Homo sapiens: one gene and its partners. The protein of the gene in region 6 purifies or fractionates together with the protein of the main gene of each other region. This does not show direct contact. Each region holds a gene or a part of one and is shown on either strand. Other genes may lie near its edges. The genes, in order: PHF6, LAMP1, DNAJB12, OMA1, RNF121, EDEM1 and BACE1.

Evidence for each region.
Region 1: the proteins of EDEM1 (region 6) and PHF6 purify together in Homo sapiens (affinity purification with mass spectrometry; one large-scale study listed by BioGRID and IntAct). This does not show direct contact.
Region 2: the proteins of EDEM1 (region 6) and LAMP1 purify together in Homo sapiens (affinity purification with mass spectrometry, with the first as the bait; one study listed by BioGRID). This does not show direct contact.
Region 3: the proteins of EDEM1 (region 6) and DNAJB12 purify together in Homo sapiens (affinity purification with mass spectrometry, with the first as the bait; 2 studies listed by BioGRID). This does not show direct contact.
Region 4: the proteins of EDEM1 (region 6) and OMA1 purify together in Homo sapiens (affinity purification with mass spectrometry; one large-scale study listed by BioGRID and IntAct). This does not show direct contact.
Region 5: the proteins of EDEM1 (region 6) and RNF121 purify together in Homo sapiens (affinity purification with mass spectrometry, with the first as the bait; one study listed by BioGRID). This does not show direct contact.
Region 7: the proteins of EDEM1 (region 6) and BACE1 purify together in Homo sapiens (affinity purification with western blotting; one study listed by BioGRID). This does not show direct contact.

Annotation. Positions count from the first base shown.
Region 1 is NC_000023.11:134,414,812-134,418,311, reverse strand, and holds part of PHF6 (PHD finger protein 6), read right to left. Parts: intron 3,297-3,500; coding exon 3,192-3,296; coding exon of another isoform or gene 3,090-3,191; exon of another isoform or gene 3,020-3,089; intron 1,144-3,019; coding exon 1,010-1,143; intron 1-1,009.
Region 2 is NC_000013.11:113,300,239-113,303,738, reverse strand, and holds part of LAMP1 (lysosome-associated membrane glycoprotein 1 precursor), read right to left. Parts: intron 1-3,500. UniProt on the Homo sapiens protein: Lysosomal membrane glycoprotein which plays an important role in lysosome biogenesis, lysosomal pH regulation, autophagy and cholesterol homeostasis.
Region 3 is NC_000010.11:72,335,142-72,337,919, forward strand, and holds part of DNAJB12 (dnaJ homolog subfamily B member 12), read right to left. Parts: intron 1,556-2,778; coding exon 1,383-1,555; intron 791-1,382; coding exon 669-790; 3' UTR 639-668; exon of another isoform or gene 1-638. UniProt on the Homo sapiens protein: Acts as a co-chaperone with HSPA8/Hsc70; required to promote protein folding and trafficking, prevent aggregation of client proteins, and promote unfolded proteins to endoplasmic reticulum-associated degradation (ERAD) pathway.
Region 4 is NC_000001.11:58,501,727-58,505,226, forward strand, and holds part of OMA1 (metalloendopeptidase OMA1, mitochondrial precursor), read right to left. Parts: intron 1-3,500. UniProt on the Homo sapiens protein: Metalloprotease that is part of the quality control system in the inner membrane of mitochondria. Activated in response to various mitochondrial stress, leading to the proteolytic cleavage of target proteins, such as OPA1, UQCC3 and DELE1.
Region 5 is NC_000011.10:71,991,546-71,995,045, reverse strand, and holds part of RNF121 (E3 ubiquitin ligase RNF121), read right to left. Parts: intron 328-3,500; coding exon 194-327; intron 1-193. UniProt on the Homo sapiens protein: E3 ubiquitin ligase which accepts ubiquitin and transfers it to substrates thereby promoting their degradation by the endoplasmic reticulum-associated degradation (ERAD) pathway which is a pathway involved in ubiquitin-dependent degradation of misfolded endoplasmic reticulum proteins.
Region 6 is NC_000003.12:5,215,207-5,218,706, reverse strand, and holds part of EDEM1 (ER degradation-enhancing alpha-mannosidase-like protein 1), read right to left. Parts: intron 2,879-3,500; coding exon 2,789-2,878; 3' UTR 1-2,788. UniProt on the Homo sapiens protein: Extracts misfolded glycoproteins, but not glycoproteins undergoing productive folding, from the calnexin cycle.
Region 7 is NC_000011.10:117,285,257-117,288,756, forward strand, and holds the end of BACE1 (beta-secretase 1 isoform A preproprotein), read right to left. Parts: 3' UTR 442-3,500; downstream 1-441. UniProt on the Homo sapiens protein: Responsible for the proteolytic processing of the amyloid precursor protein (APP).

The DNA of each region.
Region 1 (3,500 bases), on a different chromosome or scaffold from region 6:
CATACTTTACTTTTTCACCATCTTCTCAAGAGAATCTTTTGCCTTCTGTCTACCATATCCTATTCTAAGCTACCAATAATTCTCACCTGGACCACCAGCACTAGCCTCCTAACACATCTCCCCATTTCCACCTCTGCTTCTGTCTCACCCGGGGCTCTTGCATATGCTCTTCTCTCTGCCCAGAATACCTCCCCCAACCAAGGCTCACCTTTGTCCTTAATATCTCAGCTTAAAGCTGAGCACTATTTCCTTCAGAACATTTTAAATACTCCCCACTACAGACTAGGTTAGCTCTTCCTTCTTATACGCTCTCATAACACTTTGTAACTTCTTTAGAACACTTACGCTGCTATGTTGTAATTGCATATTTGGCCACTTAAATAATAGGTCTCTCCCAATAGACTGTAAGCTTCATGAGGAGAGTATATGTAGTGTTTTTTTTTTGTTTGTTTGAGATGGAATTTCACTCTTGTTGCTCAGGCTGGAGTGCAATGGCGCAATCTTGGCTCACTGCAACCTCTGCCTCCTGGGTTCAAGCGATTCTCCTGCCTCAGCCTCCCGAGTAGCTGGGATTACAGGTGCCTGCCACCACACCTGGGTAATTTTTGTATTTTAGTAGAGACGGGGTTTCACCATGTTGGTCAGGCTGGTCTCGAACTTCTGACCTCAGGTGATTCACCCGCCTCGGCCTCCCAAAGTGCTGGGATTACAGATGTGAGCCACCGCACCCGGCCCAGTGTATGTAGTTTTGATCACTGGCATATGCCCAGCTTCAAGCACAATGGCTGGCACATAGGAAGCCTAACTAATATTGGATGGATGAATGCTAATCCAGGGATATGTAGTCAGAGGAAAATGCCAATTGTAGTACTCATTCCTTACATAATGTGCTCAGTATTCTATACTTAACTAAACACCATTTAAGAACAGAGACTGAGTAAACTAATGTCATCTATTTAAGGACGGTTACTAACATGTTTAGGGAAATAGACAACTGTTGTTTTCTTACTTGTAAATTCCTCGTGACATATTTTCAATGTATTTAGCTTTGTCTTGTACTCCACAGTGGTAATGGTAAGTCTTAACACAGGCTTTTATTTCACATCCAATAGTAGCACCAGGCTGACTGCAAAGTGTACATTTCTGTATAAGGAAAGAGAAATAATCGTAAGCCGTATTTCAAGAAAACAGCAGCTATTTTCTATTGAAAAAGAGTACACTGAAATTATCACATAGCATATAACTGAAATAATGCTGCAACTTAAACCATACTTTGATAAGCCCTCTAATATTGTCATCCCCTGATGTTTCCCTTATTTAACATTTATAAACTGCTGGCTTATTAGAAAAACTACTGACCATCCCAGGTCTGACATCTAAATGTAGATAAGATTCTCCTCAATGCTGCCAAATACACAAAAAGAATGATGTTGTATATCTTAGTGGTTGGCTTCTTTTCTTCCCTAAGATCAGATCCTTTCCTATTATGATTAGGGGAAAGAATAAGAAACCAGAAAAGCAATCCTCCCACAGAGGAATTGCTACCAGTAGACAAAAGTACAGAGGGAGACTAAAGGGGCTGAAATCTTTTCAAAACTTCTCAGTTTGGCCTAGATAAACCTTGCCTGAAGAATGTTCGGAGATTAAAAGGTACCTGTTGAAAAGGGGGTTTCAAGTCAAATAAGTTTGAGAAAGGATAGGTTAAGCAGATCACTTTATTGCAGGACTTCTCACAGCCTTTTCTCCAAGGGAGGGGGCACAGAGTAAACAGTTTTCAAGTTTATTGAAATCTAGATGCCCTTTTATCTCTGGAGGGGTGGGGGAACATCTTGATGGACTAACTTCCTTTGGAGCACACTTGGGGGAAATGCTAGGTTAGTGTTTACCCCAATCCTCAATGGTACAGAGGTAAACAATAAGTTGGCAAGATAATTGAATTGTTATCTTAGTCACCTGTTTGGACTTTAGCTGTATTATACAACACTGCTCTGAATAATATGATGAAGTGGTTTTTCCTTTTTTCAGTACTACAGGCTCTGTTACGAAAGTTTCATTTTTAGCCGGGTGCTCACGCCTGTAATCCCAGCACTTTGGGAAGCCGAGGTGGGTGGATCACATGAGGTCAGGAGTTCATGACAAGCCTGGCCAACATAATGAAACCCTGTCTCTACTAAAAATACAAAAATTATCCAGGCGTGTTGGTGCATGTCTGTAATCCCAGCTACTTTGGAAACTGAGGCACGGGAATCACTTGAACCCGGGAGGCAGAGGTTACAGTGAGCCGAGATCGCACCACTGCACCCCAGCCTGGGCGACAGAGTGAGACTCTGTCTCAAAAAAATAAAAAAATAAAAAATAAACAAAAAAATTGTAAGGTATAATGACATTGTGGTTAGGTAAGAAAATGTCCAATTATTAAGAGATACATACTCAACTACATGGAGGTATAGTGATACGAAGTCTGAGGTCTGCTTTAAAATACTTCAAGCAACAAGAATAAAAGGCCTATATGAAACAAGCGCCACAAATTTAGGTAACTGATGAAGCAAGATGATGGATAGATACATGTTACTAGGCTTTCCAATTGCGGTATGTTTGAAAATTTTCCCAACAAAAAAATTTAAAAATTAATTTCTAGAAATAACCGACATAGCATTCATAAGTGTTAAAGGAGTAAGCGATCAATAAAGATGCCAACATTTCTTAGAGCTACTTGTTGGTAATTCAGTATGTTTAACAACATGAGACTAAGGCGTATTTTATATTATTTTATTTAAAAAACCTTAAAGCTATGACAAACATTTTAAGAGGCAGCCCTGTGTATGTGTTCTTTAAACAGAAAGCCCTGAAAAAAATTTCCTTTAAGCAAGCTTACACAATGTAACATTTTAAACTTAATGAAGTTTGTCACATTCATATCTTCATTTATTTTATTAAACGGCTTGCAAATGCCTTGAAATGTATATAAATCTTCTCAGTATAATTCTCTTAAAGTAATGAAGTTACATAGAGAAATAAGTTTCAGTAACATCAGCATCCTTTATTATATTACAAATAAGTCAAATATATACTTTGCTTTAACATACGAACTACTTTAAATTTTCTGATGACTGGATAAATTTGGGATGTACTCTAAATTTAAAGCAGCAAATCAAGTGTAATGTTGCATAACAAATATAAAAACTACAGACCATTCTTTTTCCTCGTTTAATCTCCTGAAGTACAGTTTTAATATCAAAGTCTCCAAATTCTGCTCTTGATGTTGTTGTGAGCTGGACTGTGCCAGAAGAAAACAACTAGAGAAGAAAAATGCAGGAAAATTAACATTCAGAATCCTTATGAGAGAAACATTAAATGTGATAACAAGTGTGTTATATTTAATTTCCGAAGAAAGATAATCTTTCCTTAATAATCAAGTATCTGCTCAAATATTTTTAATATATTTACATGTCTGATTAAAATATAACCAAAATTATGGACATTGAAATAAAATGAGGACT
Region 2 (3,500 bases), on a different chromosome or scaffold from region 6:
AGCTTTGGCAGCACAAGATGCCTGTATTACTCTGGAGAGACCCAGGAATTTTGAGTTATTAAAATAAACTTACCCTCAGAAGGCAATTTTGGTATAGAAGAAAATAAGAGCATCAGCACACAGAGCTTGAGGAGGAAATGTATGTATGCTATAAGGGTCAGAAGTTTTTTTAAAAACCTCCACAACAGTGGCAACTGGGTAGCAAAAAAAAAAAAAGACAAAAAACCTCAAGTAAGTTACAATGTTTCCAGTAACCTGACAGGTGTCACAGCCCAACAGGACAGCCGTTGGCAGCATCTCCAAGGTGGGCACCCTGGCCTACTGGTGACTGCTATCTCCGGCAGTCCTGTACTCAGACACGAACAGGACCACTTCTCCAGGGATCACATAAAGGAGTAACTGTGGCTTCAAAATACCCCCACTTGGGAGAAATTCTGTTCTCTGAAACAAGTGCCGCTGTGGGAAGCATGCGTGCTTCTGAGTCACAGCCCTCAGTTCTTGGAGGTTCTTGCAGCACTTACTAGCTGTGCAACCATGGCCAGTAGCAGAGCCCAATCCCCAGTCTCTGCACCCACGAGCAGGAGGAGAGAGTGCCAAGGCCTCAGGGCTGTCGGAGCAGCTGAGCATTTGGTGCCCGGCACTGACGCCAGCTTTGATGTCAGCTGTTATTAAACATCTGCACAGGTACAGAGGGTTCCCATCAAGTTCATCATTCAATCCTCAGTATCTGACACAAAACATCAAAAACTATCTCATTTAACAAGCACTTGGAATGCACTTACTTTGTGCCAGGTGCTGCTCTAAGCACATCCCAGTTATCATGACAACTCTTCATAGGGAGATTAAGGCATAGAGAGGTCAACTAACCCACCCAGGTCACACAGCTAGTGAGTGGCGGAGACCTAGATCTAGAAGGGGTCTTCTGACTCACAGGACGTGCCACTTCTGAGCCACGCTGCCTCTCCAGCACTTGATGACTGAGGGAACGGGCTTCCAATGAGGAAACACTGGCTGGGTGCAGTGGCTCATGCCTGTAATCTCAGCACTTTGGGAGGCTGAGGAAGCGGAGGACTGCTTGAGGTTAGGAGTTCCAGACCAGGCTGGTCAACACAGCAAGACCTTGTCTCTTAAAAAAAAAATTTAATTTTTTTGAATTAAAATAAATAAAAATTAAGAAATACTCGCTTTTGACATTAAAGATTACCATCTGAAGAAATGAGTAAAAAACTTCATTTTAAAAAATTAGGCCGGGCACAGCCCGTAATCCCAGCCTGTAATCCCAGCACTTTGGGAGGCTGAGGCAGGCGGATCACCTGAGGTCAGGAGTTTGAGACTAGCCTAGCTAGCATGGTGAAACCCCGTCTCTACTAAAAAATATATACAAAAATTAGACGGGCATGGTGGCGCATGCCTGTAGTCTCAGCTACTCGGGAGGCTGAGGCAGAAGAATCACTTGAACCCGGGAGGTGGAGGTTGCAGTGAGCTGAGATCGTGCCACTGCACTCCAGACTGGACAACATAAAGAGACTGTCTCAAAAAAAGAAGAAAAAACAATTTATTAAGAAATTACATCTTAGGCTGGGTGTGGTGGCTACCGCCTGTAATCCCAGCACTTTGGGAGGCCGAGGTGGGCAGATCACCTGAGGTTAGGCGTTTGAGACCAGCCTGACCAAACATGGAGAAACCCTGTCACCACTAAAAATACAAAATTAGCCGGGCATGGTGGCGCATGCCTGTAATCCCTGGTACTCGGGAGGCTGAGGCAGGAGAATGGCGTGAACCTGGGAGGCGGAGCTTGCAGTGAGCCGAGATCGCACCACTGCACTCCAGCCTGGGCGACAGAGCGAGACTCCGTCTCAAAAAAAAAAAAAAAAAAAAAAGAAATCACATCTTAGTTTTTCTTGGCTTGATTCTTTTAAATATGGTATTTTTATTCTACTTAACCAATGATGCACAATCATTTATGAAGAACTAAAGGAAAAAAATACCATCCCAGGCACTGAATCACAACCTCTAGAGGCAAGGTATAAGTGTGTGTGTGTGTAAATATATATATATATATATATATATATATATATATATATATATATATATTTTTTTTTTTTTTTTTTAAATGGAAACAGAGTCTCACTCTGTCACCCAGGCTGGAGTCCAGTAGCATGATCTTCGCTCACTGCAACCTCCGCCTCCCGGGCTCAAGCAATTCTCCTACCTCAGCCTTCCAAGTAGCTATGACTACAGGGGTACGCCACCATGCCCGACTAATTTTTTTTGTATTTTAGTAGAGATGGGATTTCACCATATTGCCCAGGCTGGTCTCGAACTCCTGAGCTCAGGCAATCCACCCACCTCGGCCTCCCAAAGTGTTAGGATTACACGTGACAGCCACCGTGCCCGGCCGTATATTTCTTTTTAATTTTTTTTGTAGAGACACTGGTCTCGCCATGTTGCCCAGGCTGATCTCAAGCAATCCTCCTGCCTTAGCCTCAAAGCACTGAGATGACAGGCATGAGCCACTGTGCCTCGCTGTGGTATGTATATTTCTAAAAAGCTGATCGTGTGGATCCGTGCATATGTTTGGTTGAGAGCCACTGCTATAAAATTGATCCTTTCTTCATATATGTACTCAGCACTTACTACCTGTCAGTTAAGGAAGGGAGATACACAGGCAAAAATAATCCCAGTGCAGCCGAACAGATGTTACCATGTAGAAGCACATGCAATAAAAGTCTTGGGTACAGAGAAGAAAGGGTAACGTTGTCTGGGATGGGGCTAATGCAATACAAATTCAAAATTACAGGGCTACAAAGACATTCTGACCTCAAATCTGCTGACAAATTCATTCTTTCCACCGCATAACTGACAATCTGCACAATCAAAGGTAACATCGGTTAGTAGAAAAAAAATTTTTTTCTTTGTTTTTTTGAGATGGAGTCTCGCTCTGTTGCCCTGAAGAGCAGTGGCACGATCTCGGCTCACTGCAACCTCCACCTTCCGGGTTCAAGCAGTTCTCCTGCCTCAGCCTCCTGAGTAACTGGGACTACAGGCCTGTGCCACTACGCCTGGCTAACTTTTTAAAAATATTTTTAAAAAGAATAGAGATGGAGTTTCACCATGTTGTGGCCAGGATGGTCTCGATCTCTTGACCTAGTGATCGGCCTGCCTCAGCCTCCCAAAGTGCTGGGATTACAGGCATGAGCCACCACACCCAGCTTTTCTTTCTTTTCTTTTTCTTTTTTTTTTTTTTTTTTTGACATTGAGTTTCGATTTTGTTGCCCAGGCTGGAGTGCAATGGCACGATCTCAGCTCCCTGCAACCCCTGCCTCCCAGGTTCAAGCAATTCTCCTGCCTCAGCCTCCCACGTAGCTGGAATTACAGGCGCCTGCCACCACACCACGCCTGGCTAATTTTTGTATTCTTAGTAGAGACGGGGTTTCACCACATTGGCCAGGCTGGTCTCAAACCCCTGACTTCAGCTGATCCGCCCACCTGGGCCTCCC
Region 3 (2,778 bases), on a different chromosome or scaffold from region 6:
GTGACGGCATTCGAGAGAGTGCCTCAGATCCCACCAGAGGGGGGTGGTCAGGGCCCGCGGCCCCTGCCGCCACCAAGACTGCCAGCTCCCACCCACCTCGTGGCTGCCTGTTCATCTTGCTCCATTTCCTCCTAGCTGGAGGGATGGAGAAAGGGGAGGGCTCTTGGCCCACCTATTCCCACATGGTTCTTCCTGGTATCAGGCAGGCAGTGTGCATATGGGGCTCTCTTGGGCCCCACCATATGTGATGGCCTAAATACCAGGGCACGGACAATAGTCTGCTGTGCTGGAGAAAGGGCCGTGCTGACTGATGGCTGGAGTGGACCAAGAAGCCCCGGGTGGCCCTCAGCAACAGTTTCAAGTTCCCACTCTGCCTGGTTCTGGGGTCCCCCACACCCCTGGAGCCAGGGAGCAGAGCGGAGGAGTGGGGAGGACAGCATCGCTAGAGGGCGGAAACCGACCTTGGTTTCCCAGCAGGCCCCACAGCTGCTCGGTCTCTGGAGGCTGGAGGTCAGGCTGGGGACAGGAGTCTTTGCCACAATCACCAGGCTTCCTCCCTTTCTCCCCCTCCCTCCTCTGCTCATGACCAGGGCCAAAGCTGCCAGGAGTTGCAGGGTGGAGGCAGCCCTGGCTCATACTTGGACCTCGGTGGTGTGGCTGGCCCAGGACTATCCATGCAGGGAGGCCTGCACCTCTGACAGTCGGCTGCAGCTGGGGGTGCCCATCTTCTGTGCTCTGTGGTACATATCTGTGTCGCCAAAGTAGCGTGCCCGGTACAGCAAGCCTTCCTCTGCAAAGCAATGGGACAGGGTTAGTGCACACCCAGTACCTCCCGAAGCCTGCAAGGAAGCCTGCGAGGGCTGTGGAGGGCGGAGGAAAGCTGGTACATGCCCGGGGCTTGGGCAGGGCTGGCCTCCCATTAGGAAGACCATGGAGGAGCAGAGACTACAGTCCTTATGTGGGCGAGGGTGACAGAGGCGCCTTTCTCTAGAATGCAGTGAGGCCAGCCAAGGTGAGACCCTGTCATCCTGGTCAGGCCTCCCCAGGGTCCCACAGACAGATCCAGGAGCACAGTCAGGGGGTGGCCAGGGATCCATCCGCTCCAGTCCATCTCTACACACTCACCTCTGGCAGCCAACATGCTGGGCTGATGGCAGTGATTTACGGGAACCTGAGGAAACTACCAGGTGGCCCCTGGCTCCCAGCCCCGGAGAAACACAGGAGTGGAGACCAGCTCTTGTCTGGGAGGTGGCTGGTGCAGGGCAGTGCCAGGGGCTGGGCCCTCAGAGCACAGGGTGAGCAGGGCTCTCTCCTTCCCCTGCTTTCCAGCTTCATCCCAAGCCACCTCCCAAATACAGCCCCCGCCTTCCCCCCACACTCACTCTGCTGCTTCTCCTTCCAGCAGTTGTTCCGGAGGTTGGCGATATAATCATCTTCCACATTCCGCTCGACTGTTTTGAGGCTGGAGCCTGTGTACTCTTCGGAGAAAGTGTCTCCCACATAGTAGACGACACCCAGGTGGTCAGTGACTCGCCTGTGGATGTGGCCCACGGACCTGGCCAGAAATACCAGGTTCAAAGTGGGTGCGGGTCCCCATGCCCAGGGCACTCTAGGGGTATGGGCCCCAAGACAGGAGGTGCCGCACAGACCAGAGGAGTAGTTGGTTCCCTCTCAAACCAGAGCAGGGACCCGCACACTCCCTGAAAGGAGAGTCTGAGGAAAAGGCAGCGTCCTCCCACACACGTGGCCCAGACCGCAGGACGCCCTGCCTTTAGATCCCTGCTTACCACACTGCTGACCTGGGGCCTTTGGGGAGAGGCCTGGTCTAGGGAACTGGAGACCTGAGAGGGAATCTGGGCTCTGCCTCTGTGCCTCCATCTCCCCATTCATCCCCTAAGCCAATTGTTGCTGAGTGCTTGCCTGCCTATCTAGGAGTTCCCAGTGTAGGGTTAAGAGGCTTAGGAACAAAATGACAGGAAGGGCTCCAGGGAGCCTTATCCTCCCAGCTCCAATCACAGGCTCTGTCAGCTGTGGGAAGAGCCTTGACACCCAGACAGGACCAGTGCTCTGGGGACAACAGTCCCTGCCCTAGTCCTCTGCTCCTCACATCTCTCCAGTTGCAGGGAAAAGGGCTGGCATCTGGCCACAGGGAGCCTGAGCCGGCGGCCAGGGTCCAGTGGACCGACTCTGCCCCCTGCTGGCTGAGAAGGGTCCTGCCAGCTCCCAGCCAGAGGTGGCCACCTTTTGGGAGAGGGGGACCCACCCCACTGAAGATGTGCACCCACTGTGTAGCTGACCCTGGGCCAGGTGCTGGACATCAGTGAGGGGAGCTGACCCCCTAACGGCTCATGAAATGTCCTCAAGTTCACTCCTGGCAGTCGAGACTAAGCATTCATTAAACTAATATTGTTGAGCATTTCTAGTGGGCCAGACATTTTATATGCATTACTCATTAATTTCCACAGCAGGTGGATGTTATAATTCCCATTTTATAGATGAGGAAACCAAGGTTATATAACTTGTTTAGGGTCACACAGCTTCTTAGTGGAGAAGCTGGGATTCTAAGCCATGCTTGCTCTGTCTGACTCTAGTGCCCTGTTCTTTCCACAGCCTCAGGAAGCCCAACCAGAGCCGAGGAGCAGAGGTTCTTCGTCAGGGTTGGCAGGGGAGATGGGCAGGGAAGAGTCACAAAGCCGCCGAAATTATATGCAAAACTCTGTGTGTATATGTGTGCGTGTATGTGTGCATGTGTATTATGTGTGTGCATGTATTGTGTGT
Region 4 (3,500 bases), on a different chromosome or scaffold from region 6:
CATAACTGTGTGCTAAGGACTCATGTGTTCCTCTAAAATTCATATTTTGAAGTCCCAACCTCCAGTGTAACTGTATTTGGAAATAAGGCCTAAAAGGAGGTAACTAAGGTTTAATGAGGTCTGAAGGGTGGGGCCCTGATCGAATAGGATTAGTAGCTTTATAAAAAGAGACATAAGAGAGCTGCCTCTCCCTCCTCACTGCCCCCCACTCCCGCCCCCAGCACCAAATTTATTATCTGTCTCCCTTTACTGCAGAATAAGCTTCATGAGGACAGGGATTTTTGTCTATTTATTTCACATCACCTACAACCTGGCATATAACAGATGACTGATAAATACTTGTTGAATGCATAAAGTGTAAATTTAAAACATTTTAAAAGTTGATAAGCTACAGTAAGAAACAATACATTTTTGTGATGATATGCAAGGGATCCAATAAGAAATAAAAATATACAATCTTCAATAAGCTAAAGTTTAAAAATCAAAATGATCAAAATTTGTGTTCTAATCACAGACCCACAGAATCCTGCTTTCTTGGTTTCCTATTTGCTTTCTTGATTTCCTATGAATCTGATCCAACACAGGCTCTGTCTTCCTCCCACCCATTAAATGTGGAAAATATGCAATACTGTTACTTTGATCTTTTTCTCTAATCACTTCCTACGTGAACTCATCCATTCTCATTGCTTCAACTATCACTTCTTTTTAGATGACTCTGAAACTCTGAAATCTTCATCTCTGGCCTGGATTTGTCTGTGCTCTCTAGTGCTGTATTCTCAACTGCCTTTGAGGGGAACATAACTTCACCATACTGCTAGAGATGTCAAAGGACAGGAACCTTAGGTAGAACATAACATACTCACTAGAGCATGCTACATAAAATATAATTTCAAAATGTAGTAGTAGTATACAGACTCACATAATTCTATATACTGCCTGAGAAACTGCCTTCTTTCATTATATGTCAGAAATTAGACTACAATAATAGGGAATTCCAATCTTTGAGTTATGACTGTATATTCTAATTAACAATATACCCTTGTACTATCAGTTTCACTTCAACCACTGAGTTATTCCCAATATTGCAATAGAGTTTTATTACTTTCAAATTGAATTTAATCACTTGGGGTGGGGAATATAAGAAATTATATGAGGTTTTCAAATTAAGTTTCTGAACTAGGATAGTTTATTTTTAGAAGAAAAATGTCTCACGTCTTTGTCTTCATCATTTGCTCCCAAATAAAATTTGTTTCTCTAGCCATTTTTCTTCCTACTCACTAATCAATTCATTATTATTTTAAAGACATCTCTAAAGCACAGTTTTTACCTCTCCGAAGATGCTCAGTAATTTGATGATGAAATGACAACTCAGAATTTAGGAGTCTTCACATGAAAAGTTGGCTAACAGAATTTATTATCCAATTAAACAAACCACATATTTTTAGAATTTCATTGAGCGAAAATAAAAAGAAAAAAAATTCAAGAGAAAATCATATTGTTATCATTGCTTTAGAGACAGGCCCAGGCCTCCCAGGGTGCGATAAAGTCCCAGGGGCCTTGGATAGCACAAAGGACCCTCTTATAGTCAGTGATCCTCAGTACAAGTCAGTTACTGAAGAAATACATAATGTCCCATGCCTATACTACCCTTTTAAGAGGAATAATTACTACATATTATATCAGGTAAATTTCACTGCTATTTCTTTCTCAAATTTTTTTTTCAAATTAAGAATACAAATGAAATCTAGTTAAGATAGCTGCTGATATAGAGTGAATGTCTGTGTCCTGTCAAAATTTATATGTTGAAATTCCAACTCCCAATGTGATGGTATCAGGAGGTAAGCGCCTTTGGGAGGCGATTGTCATAAGGGTGGAGCCCTCATGAATGGGTTAGCACCCTTTTATAAAAGAGGCTTTTGAGAGCTCCCTTGCCCCTTCTACCATGTGAGGTTACAAGGAGAAGATGGCTGTTTATGAGCTGGGAAGTGGGCCCTCACCAGACACCAAATCTGTTGGAAATTGGATCTAAGATTTCACAGCCTTCCAAACTGTGAGAAGTAAGTTTCTGTTGTTTATAAGCCACCCAGTCTATGGTATTTTTATTATTGCAACCTGAACAAACTAAAATAGGTGTTAAGAAGCCATGCTTGGCTGTCCTCAATGCTCACAAAAGGCACGAAGTATGCCTAAATTACCAACAAATCCTGTCATCACTCCTTTCAAAATATATCCAGAATCTGACTGATTCTTTCCCCATTTTCTGCTACCAGATATCTTGGTCCAAGCCACCATCATCTCCTACCAGGATTATGAGAGTCTCCTAAAAAGTCTCCCTGACTCCACCGTTGCCCCACTAGTCTACTCCACACAATAATGCCAGTGATCACAATAAAACATGAGTCAAATCAAGTCACTCCTCTGCTCAATATCCTCAACTAGCTTCTCCTATCACTTGAAGTGAAAGTCAAGTCCTTACAATGGCTTAGAAGATCCTGCGTGGTCTGGTCCCCTTTCACCTCATCTTGAACTGTTCTTCCCTTCCCTTACTCCATTCAGCCCCAATGTCTTCCTTGCTATTCCTTGAACACATCAAACATACGCTGACTTTAGGTTCTCTGCATCAGCTGCTTCCTCAGCCTAAAAGGCTCTCTCTCCCTCCACACAGCTAAAGGACTTGCTCCCGTGCTTCCTTCCGGATTCTGATTAGTGAGGCCTTCCTTGACAACCGAACATAGACTAGTACCCCTTCTCTGCTGCCCACCCCTCTCTAATACCTTTAATCTGCTTTATTTTTTCCCAAGGTACTTATTATTGCTTGGCATACTATATGTTTGTTTCTTATTTGCATTACCTAACTAGAATGTTAACTCCAAGAAAACAGACTGTTTTGTTCCTTGCTCATTCCCCAGCAATAGAACACAGAATAGTAGATTAATCAATAAGTATCAATAAATATCGATCTACCTAATGAATGAATAAATCTTGCACTAGAGTTTCTTATCCCAAACTAGAAGCAGATTCATCTTCCTTCAAACTGCATACCGTTTTTATTTTTCTTATGATAAATCATATCCTTGTACTAATAATCATTTTTTATTTATCTTAGCATCCTGTAAATATCAAGAACCATATCTTATTCCTCTTTGTATCCCCCACATCTAGCATCATTTCTTTCTTTTAAGAGGTACTCCGTATTTGTTGGGCTGAATTTGAAGTCATACTGAAAGATACTTCTTTTTTTTTTTTGAGACAGAGTCTCACCCTGTCGCTGACTAGAGTGCAGTGGCACGATCTCGGCTCACTACAACTTCTGCCTCCAGGGTTCAAGCGATTCCCCTGCCTCAATCTCCCGAGTAGCTGGGATTACAGGCGCATGCCACCACGCCCGCCTAATTTTGTATTTTCAGTAGAGACAGGGTTTCACCCCGTTGGCCAGGCTGGTCTCGAACTCCTGACCTCAGGTGATCCACCCACCTCAGCCTCCCAAAATGCTGGGATAA
Region 5 (3,500 bases), on a different chromosome or scaffold from region 6:
CAGGTTGTAACCACTGTTTACCTAAGAGTGGCTCTGATCTGTGGGAAAGGGTAGGGAAGGTGGCCCTCTTGTGGCTCTCCTACACTCAAGGGTCTGGACAGCATGCCTAGGGTCATGACCACCCTCTTTCTCTCTCTCACTACAGTGTGCAGATTGCAGGAGAGATGTGGCCCAGGAGCTCGAGGCAGGATACACATGATTGCAGGACAGCCTATACGTGTTCTCAATGATCCCCTCTTCACTGACGTCCACAAAGATCTGCTGCCCACACACAGCACACACACTGTCTGAAAGATGTTTGGTAGGCATGCCCGACTCGCTGTAGAACTGAAGGAGAATAGCAGGAAGGAAAGATAGGAAAAGATGTGAGAAGCAGCCAAAGTAGGAAGCTCCACAGAGACCTCAGGCCTTCTAGAGAAGAGGCACAGTGGCAGCGGGAGGCCCAGAGTTAGAGGACATCTTTTTTTTTTTAAACTGTTTAGAAAAGGTAATCTTTTACAAGTCAAATCGACCTCATCTTTGCTGGGCAGATGGGGAGAAGTGACCAGACTAGAGACAGTTGGGAAGTTAGATGTAACAGAACCTATAAACTGGGCTGGATCAGCACCAAAGGATAAGGGGAAGGGGAGGGAGAAGGACTTGGGGCTGGTGATCAAAAGCTGTGTCAGGCAAGCCATTCTGTCGCCAGACTATGGTTCCACCAGAAATGGACAACAATATTCTCCAACATTTAAAACAGTGAAATATTAAGTGCCATGTTGGTTTGGTGACAAGGGCATTCTCAGACATTTGTGGCAGCAGCAAAAGGGGTTCAAGCCTTTCAGATAGGATTTAGCATGGTATCTCAAATTGTTGCACCTTTTGACCCATTAATTTCACTTCAAGGAATTTAAAGAAATAAGAGGAGGCTGGGCGCGGTGGCTGACGCCTGTAACCCCAGCACTTTGGGAGGCCAAGGAGGGCGGATCACGAGGTCAGGAGATCGAGAGCATCCTAACTAACACAGTGAAACCCCGTCTCTACTAAAAATACAAAAAATTAGCCAGGCATGGTGGGGGGCGCCTGTAGTCCCAGCTACTCAGGAGGCTGAGGCAGGAGAATGGCGTGAACCCGGGAGGCAGAGCTTGCAGTGAGCCGAGATCGCACCACTGCACTCCAGCCTGGGCAACAGACCGAGACTCCATCTCAAAAAAAAAAAAAAAAAGAGGAAGTGTCAAAGAAGCTTCATGAATACAGATATTCACTTAAGCATTATCATAATTAAGAAAGCAAAGAGTTTGGCATGTCCTCAAAAAGTTAAACATAAAATTACCAAATGACCAAGCAATTCCATTCTCGGTATAAACCCAAAAGATATGAAACTAGGGACTAAACACACTTAAACGCCAGTGCTCACAGCGTTACTCACAGTAGCCAAAAAGTGGAAACAACTCAAGTGCCTATCCACAGATGAATGAATAAACCAAATGCGGTGTCACACACAATGGAATACTATTCAGCCATATAAAGGAATGATACATTCTATACATGGATGAACTCTGAAAACACTACGCTAAGTGAAAAAAGCCAAAGGGACAAATATTGTATGATTCCATTTACATGAAATATCTACAATAGGCATGTTCACAGAGATGGAAAGTATATTAGAGGTAAACCAGGGCTGTGGGAAGGGGTAATGAGTTACTGCTTAATGGGCAGAGTTTCTGTTTGGGATGAAGAAAAATTTTGGAATTAGACAGTGAAAATGTTGCAGAACACTGCAAATGTAATTAATGCATGAATTGTATACTTCAAAATGGTCAAAATGGTGACATGGTCTAGAAATCTCTTCTGGGGAGTAAACTGGTTAAAGGAAGATCCAATGTCTACACAAATAGGTAAGAGGGAAATGAAGGTAAAGCACAAGACAGTTGTTCAAAAAGGAACCTAATAAACTGTCAATAAAGTGATCCAATGTACTGTTTTCAATTTGATCCAGTAGAGAAAAAATTAGAATATTCCCATGATACTGAGGGACAAAGTCCCTGGCCTTAAACGGTACTAGATTAAAGTTACCCAAGGTGATGGAAATATTCCTTCTTGGGGTGGGGTCTTGGGGGATGACACTGAGACAGGGAGCACTTCTGTGTTGTTTAAATAATTACAAAGAGAACATACTACTTTTATAAACAGCAAAACAATAAAGATATATTTCCATTCTGAAAAAAAAAATAGAAATATTTACTTGCGTTTCTCAGATTGGCTGTTAATTTACCCATATTTAAGCATCTCTCCGTGATGTCCACCTGCTGCTCTTGCAGCATTTCCTATCTCAGTGAAAGGTACTACCATCCAAGCAGTTGCCGAATCAGAAATCTCAGCTTTGAAACCTATATTTCCTTTGTATTTTTCCCTTCAGTCTTCAGAACCAAACTATATCTAAGTCCAAAATACTTCTCAAATACAGTATGTCCTCACTTCACTGACAGTTTCTTGGAAACTGTGACTTTAAATGAAACGACATATAACAAAACCAATTTTACCACAGGCTAATTGATAGAAACAAGAGTTCAGTTCCTGTGTCATATTTCTGTCACAAAGACATCACTAAACCTCTATTTAAGAGACACCAAATTGTCTCTTAAGTAAAGACTCAAAACACTTTTAATATTAAATGTTGAAATGAAATGTGTAGCTTTACACATACAGTTAAAGATTAACAAAGCAAGTATGAAAGCTTCCCCAATTTTTGGTAAAGCAGTAAGTGACAGTGGCTGTTGTTGTAGCGGCTGTGGGTTAAATCAAGGAATAAGAGTTCACAAAGTAAAAATTGTAAGGAGCAACTCCTACCACTGTGCAGTTCAAAAACAATTACCAATATGGACTAAGCACTTTTGTGCCCCATCATTTATTGTTGTGCCTTTGCATGATTATTATACATTTTGTGAATTTTTACTTATTTAGAGACAACGTCTTGCTCTGTTGCCCAGGCTGGAGTTTGGTGGCATGAACAAGCTCACTGCAAGGCTCAAGTGACTTCCCACCTTGGTCTCCAAAGTAGCTGGGACTACAGGCATGTGCCACCACGCCCGGCTAGGTTTTTTTTTTTTTTGTCTCATTTTTTTGTAGAGATGGGGTCTCACTATGGTGCTCAGGCTGGTCTTGAACTCCTGGGCTCAAGCAATCTGCCTGCCTCAGCCTCCCAAAGTGAGCCACTGTGCCCGGCCCCTCCCAGGATTTTTAGCATAAAAATCAAAATCTTTAATTTGGCCCACAGGCTTTTTTCTAGTCTAGTCACTACTTCTCCAGGCACTTCTTGGCCATACAACCGCAATGGTCTTAGTTCCTCAAAAACACCCACACTTTCTCCCGTGACAGGACTCTTATGAATGCTCTTTCCTCTGCCTGGTTCTCACTTCATCCACTTAACTGCTATTCATTGTTCAAGTCAGCTCCATAGTCACTTCTTCAAGGAAGCCATCTTTGAGCCCCAAGACTAGGTCAAATGACACTACTACATG
Region 6 (3,500 bases):
TGATTTGAAAGTTTGTTATGAGAGAATTATGCTTTGTCAAGCCAACTATAAGGCAGCTTTCTACAACAGTTCTGCAAAATGTTTCCACCACACTGAGCAAAGCTGACACTAGACACTAGCTACACGTGGGAATAGGAAGATGGGCCAGGCTCAGAGCCGCCGCAAAGGATGAAGTCCACTCAGATTTGAGGCAATCCTGGGGCAAAGCACTGAGCAAAGCAACTTCTCTGGTAATCTCCTCCTCAGCCATTCTCTACCCAGTATTTCAGAACACAGAACAGAAGAAACTGCAAAAGCCCTGCAGGATATATCACAGCTGTTAACATTCTGACTTTAAAAAAAAAAAAAAAAAACAAGTAACCTTTGAAACTGGCTCAAAGAACCTTCTGGCATCCAGCCCCACAAACCACTGACTACATAGCATCAAACTTTGGACGGGGTAGTCTGGAAGCTCAACAACCAGGATTAATATGTACTAACTCACTCACCCTCAGTCTCACCCACTGGTATTAATTCCAGTACCCAGAAGTCAAGTGGGTTTGTGACTTAACATAAAACACGTTTCCTGACAGCCTGTGGCCCCTGGGAAGCACCTGCAGCATTGTGTAGTTTGCAAGCATGAGATCCCTATTCCCTATTCCAGGAGCATGAGGAGGAAGGAACACCCAGGCTTGCTCGAGTGACAGGCAAAGTGCCTCATTAAGAGAACACTGGAGTGCTTACCCACCACTGCCGCCACAGAAGCCAGAGCGGGAGAGGAGGGGAGCGCCAAGAGAAATCACAGGCAGGAAGAACTCACCTCCTTCTCTGAGATGCTCTATTTTCCCAAATGGGTCACTAACAGTCCCACCTGTTTGCCCAGAGACAAAGGTACAAGTATGCTCGTGTGTGCATGCATGCATGTGTGTGTAATTAACATTTTCAATGAGTCAGTGAAAACATTTAAAATATATATATATATTATTCTCAAAGTTTTCTATTCAGTAGATGGGACACTGTTAATAAACAGAATAATGCTTCTGAAATGAAAAAAGGTAAAATAGAAGCATTTTATTTTTTCTATTTTAAAACAATTGTTGTAATAAATGTTTAAGAGATAGAGATGGCACGTTTATTACTGAAAATACTCTTTTCAAAAATCTCAAAGAACTGAACTATATAAAACCATAACACTTAAAATTTTCAAGAAGGAATAAGATTTCTCCCTTTTGACTAAAAATGCAACATAAACTTAGACAGTGCTTATTTCTAGCTTTGAAAAGATGTACATGAAATCCTTAGAGGTGGGAAAACAGTGACAGGTGAGAACCGTGCTATGTGAGGCTGGAAGTTTTAGGGATTTCCTACCTTTTTTACTAGAATGCGTTTCCACCCATGACGCTTCATGGAAGCCAGACTAAGAGTCAACCCTGCTGCACTGTGTAAGAGTAGCAGGTGTGTATCAGTGTGAGTTCAAAGAGAGATGTTCTGGCTAAGAAAATAATAACAAAAAAACAAAGGCATTTTAGCACAACTTCCTCCTTCTACATGCTTACTTTTACAGGATGAAAGGCAAAGACTGGCCAAGCAATTTCCATCCCCCTTTCACCACGGTCTCACCATGTGGCTAAACAGGCCTCCTGAAACCATAGCAGTAGCTGCGACATCCAGTGCCCCAAACCAAAACCAATATAAGGCACTAATCTAAAGCCTGTATTACACAGAGAAATGGCTCAAGGATGCTAAAAGTCATGTGATCATTTCTTTCTCCCTGATTTAGCTAATTGGCACTAGACACAGAAAACAGAAACAAAACAGAACTCTAACCCAAATATGGTCAGAAGTGAGAATCCTTGCTTAGGAAATATGAGAAAGATGGAAGCTCAGACAATCTTAGGTATTGTTCTCTCCCTAAAAGGCACCTGATTCTGGAACTATGGGAGTTCCTCAGGTAAGTTCATATTCAAAATGCAAAATACCACCCAAAAGATGTCAGTTAACCTCTTAGACCATAACATAATAACCTAAGAGACTATCTGTTAAGAATTCTGGTTAAGACCATTCTTCTTAAGCAAATAATTTGTAACACTGTAAAGATTACTTGAGGCAAACATGAAAAACTGGATGACTTTTTCTCCCATGTGATCCAAAATCACGGTTGGATATCAGGGGAAGACCCCAATTATCTAACAACAGAAAGGATGACATTTTCAATGCAATTAAATAGGGATACCAAATGAACCATGGGCCCTTTTGCAGAAATTTCATTCTCAATCCTCTAACAAAGAAGTAGCTAGCCAGGTACAGTGGTGCTCACCTGTAATCCCAGCTACTCGGGAGGCTGAGGCAGAAGGATCACTTGAGCCCAGGTAACCCTGTCCCAAAAAAATATCAAGACCCTGTCTCAAAAAAATAAAATATAATAAAAAAAATTTTTTAAAGACATAGCAATACTCCAGTATAGCAGGTGCCAGCAAAGTGAAGAGACTTAGGTTCTGAAGTATAAAGCTGTGAACATCAATCCAAAGATGCCCCATCTATTGTGCTTATAACATCAACATGTCATAAGAGGGCAATTTCCATGTATCTTCTCACTTCAAATTATATCCTTAACAGGGCATTTTATTGAACAGGAGAGAAACACTGAAGTGTGCAAGGATTAACCAGACGTGGTGAGGTGTTGCACAGAAATTCCTACACCACCATGGACAGCAAGACTTCTGTCCCCTTTCATTTCAGACTGGACTTTGGCATGGTCTGGGTTTGGTCGTTAAGGTCTGGTTCAAGATGAGGCCTCACAGAGAGCAGATCAAATCAAACCAACCATCTGGTCAATCTGTCGCATGTAGATGCTCTTTAAGGGCAGGGAGTACCTCCTCTCATCAGGTACACGATTGCACTAGAAAGACAAAAACGAGGGAAAATTAAAAACTCATATGTTGCTCTCTCAGGAAATGTGACTGGATGACTTAATCCAGGGTTTCTCAGCCTGTGAACTACTGACGTTTGGAAGTAACTGTTGTGGAAGCTGCCTGTACACTGCAGGACGGTCAGCAGCACCCCTTGCCTCTCCCACTAGGTGCCAGTGGCAACTCCTACGCCTCAGCTGTGAAAATCAAAAACGTCTCCAGACGCTGTTCCAATGTTCCCTGAGGAGCAAAATCACCCTCAGGTGAAGACCAGTGACATAATTTAACATCCTCACTCACTTTATAAAGAAATGGCAGATCCAGGGAAGCTAAAAGGCATCGCAGCAACTGCTTCGTGGCCAGGACTGAAAGCCACATCCCTGGGGTCCTTAGTCCGCCCAGAATTTCAGAAAACATTTCTGCTACTTGAAAATACTGTGTTTTTCTGAGCTATGTTTTTCTCATTCACAACTCACTAAACTCTAAATGCTTAAGACTATTTCTTTAATTAAAACCCCCCCACCCCCACCACTTTTTTTCCTCAAAGCAGATGCACATCTTGAGAACTAACCAACTGTGACATCCCTGGAAGCAGTTGTCTAAATACATTCA
Region 7 (3,500 bases), on a different chromosome or scaffold from region 6:
TGTACATTTTTATTATATAGGTAATGTGTGTATAGAAAGTCTGTATTCCAATGTTCGTAAATGAAACTATGTATATTATGCAGAAACAGTCTGTTCCCCCTCATCTTGCAATTCCTTTGGGGGATGCAGATTGTAGGGAAGATGATGTTTAGTTTGGCCTTGAAATTATGATATCCCTGCCCAGGGCTGTTTTCAAATACAATATAAAAACCACCTAGGAACCTGCTGTTGCTCTAAGGCCATTCTGCTTTGGTTTGGCTCAGCCTCTAGTCCATTTCCTTAAGGCTCATGTATGCAGATTTAAAGCCTGGTGCTCACCCACTGTCCAACCAGATGCCTTGCTTACCGAAAGCCTCCAGAAGCCTCAGTATTGTTTTAGCCACTCTACTCCAAATGGATAAAATGAGACTCTGATTGAGGAAAAAAAAGTAACCCTAGTAGTTTGACTTCTTATTGAATATTTTACTGTGTTAACGCTCATTATTTATACAGACATTAGGTTTACAGAATATTCTGTTTTACATCACCAAAATTCACAGTCCGAGAATAACAACATAACCAGGTCCCAATTCCTCCATGTACCCCACAAGCTTCTGTCCACCCTATTTTCTGGACAGAAATTAGCACAACCCACAGGTTTTTCCTGGGCCAAGTCTTCCTTTGCTGCCACTGTCTTGGCTTCTAATCAAGCTCTGACAGGCCAACATTGTGAAGTCCTCACCCTTTCCCATTCACTTCTGGTCTCCTAGTCTAGCTAATCCCCCTCCCCCAGAAGGTTAAGGCAGTTGGTTCACAACCAAGTTGTTTGGTGACCTTGGGTGAGCTCCAGACAGGCACTGGGGTGAGGAGATGTCTGTGCAAAATTACTTGTAGAATGATCTTGGGATGCTGGATTTTAATTTTTGAAGCAAGAAAGTTAGGGGGGGACATATTTCCTGTCCTGGGAAAAATGGAGACCAAAGTGATATTAAGAAAGTAGTTTGGATTTCAAATTTATAAATCACTTGCTCTGTGGGTAGCTATCAGGAACTAGATCATTTTCCACCTCTGCTTATTGTACTTCTTAATTTTAGGTTTTATACCTGGGAAAGCTGTGACTCTATTAGAGCTTTGAATCTTTTCCTATCCTTTTATCTTTACTCCTACAGGGAATGGCCTCAGCTCCCTTCTCTTTTAGAATTAAACAAGTAAAAACTAAGAGTTAACTTTTTAAAAAAACTGACTCCAGGGAAAGGACATTATTATATTACCAATAGCTGATTTTTTTTTCCATTCTGGGACCTAAAATGCTTACAGGTACTAGCAGTACATGTCGGATAGCAAAGACTTTTCCTTTCAGACCCAACTAAATGATCTCCTTTCTGCCTTTGATACTCTTTTCCTTCTTTGTCTTTCATCCTTGCCTATCACCTCACAGATGGATTCTTCCTCATTTCTCTTGCCTCACTTGCCCAGGTTTATTGACTAGCGTCAGTTTAAGGAGCTGGACTTCCTGGGACCTCCTTGGCATCTTGTAGGGTGATTGGAGTGGCCTGAGTACTCAGCTCTTCAGAGGTCAGGTGACCCACTTTCTTTGGTTAATGAAATGTTACTGTCTCCAGGTTAGTAGCTGTCATGAACAGGAAAGGTGGCAAAATGGAAGACCAGTTCTATTGTTCTTTTTGTTTAGGGGATTCGTTTTTTATCTTGTAATCTTAAGATTTCCTCTCCCCTCAACTTTACAGCAGCCTTAGGCCACCTGCCGTATTTTTCAGTATCCCCTGCAAATTTAGAAATTGAAAATGAGTGTAAAGCATATTGTTTCTTTTCCAAAATCCTTTGAAGCCAAAGGAGTAAAGAAAGAAAAAAGGAAGGGGTGAGGAGGGGGCTTAACTGCTTCCCAGTAAAGACCCTGGAAAGCCCACTCTTGCAGGAGGATAAGTGTTTTGGAGAGTTGTGCATGGGAGCGAGCGCCTCAGTGTTACTCTTTCTTGTTCAGGATCAGTCAGAAAGCAACACAAGTGTTGGCGACCCCTGTTCTCCCTTCTCCCTCTGTCCACTGGCCTGCAATGATAAAAGACATGCAGACCAATGGGAAAGGCCCCAAATGCAGTGAGTGGAGAATGGGACAGTCATTTTTCAGGAGCAGAATTTAAAAATACAGATGTATAATACATATTTTTACAAGCAAGAAGCTGTTGTTAAGACTTTTTTTTACACTTAGAGTTTATAATTTTGGGGCAGGAAGGAAGTAACTGTAAAAAGAAAAACAAGTGCAAGTTTTCTTTAAAAAAATAATAGGCTGATGGGACTTGCTATCGAAGGGGTTGAGTTTTATGCCCTGGAAAGGGCTGGGAAAAAGCCAGTTTTTCCCAACATGGGTAGAAATTATAAAGCAAAATGTGGCATTTTCACTTCATGGTAGCAGTTCTGAAAGTTTATTTACACAGTAAGTTCCGAGCTAGAAGTGGACAGTCTCCAGTCTTCCTGTCAGACTCTGTAGTTATGGGGTGTTCCCAGTCAGCCAAAGCAGCACCAAGTGCAGTGGGAATGAAGAGAACCCAGATAAAAAACTGACTCAGTATTCTTGTTTTATTGGTTTATGGCTTGTGGGCAGCTGGCTGAGGCCAGGAACACCAGAGGCCCTCCTTGTATTTCCCTCTCCCTTATCAGGTAATTCCACACTTAGCAGGTCCCATACCTGGAAGCAGCGGGTTGACCAGGTAGGAGTAGGATGCAGTGGGTATACTAGGAAAACCCAGCTCTTCCCACTAACACTGGTACCGTAGTTTACTATGCTAGAACTGATAGGGAGGTAATGAACTTGGTCCCCACTACCTAGCCCAAGAACCAGCCTGGGTACCCACGTACCATTAGGAGCGGGGAGGGGAAGAACAGGATAGGGGAAAAAGATGACCTTCATCAAGGAGCTCTTGTGGTGGAGGACATAAGGAAGCCCTGAGGCTGCCATCCTTTCTCCAGGCAGCCTTGATACTGAAGGCAGTAATGTTAGAGCCATAAAGCACTGTATTTCTCATACTCTTGGTATAATGCTAGTGCCACTGTGTGATGCTTTAGTCAAATAAATGGAGGGGCCATTAGAGAGGGTAGGAAGGCAATGAAACCACTCTGAATTATGTAAAGATCTTGCTACTTCTTATAGCCTAATAGGAAGAAATCCAGGCAGGGGTTATAGGGCATCAGCTGTTGAATGAATGTTCAACATTATGCTTTTAAGGATTAGATAGAAGAGGTCTCCTACCTATTCCTTTTAGCACCTTGGCTGCAAAGCTCCAGAGGAAGATTTGGGGGAAAGAGTGAGCCTATGACCAGGAAGACAGAGCCCAGCCCTGCTATAGTCCAGTTGCTCTCCCACAGGGCACCTGGAGCTTAGGGGGTTAGGATATTTCAGTGCTGCCTATCATATGTAGAATAAAGGGTGGTTCAGATAGAGACAATGAAATTAATATGGCAGAAATTCATGTGTTAAGTGGAACTTCTTAGTGGGCACTTCATTTAAG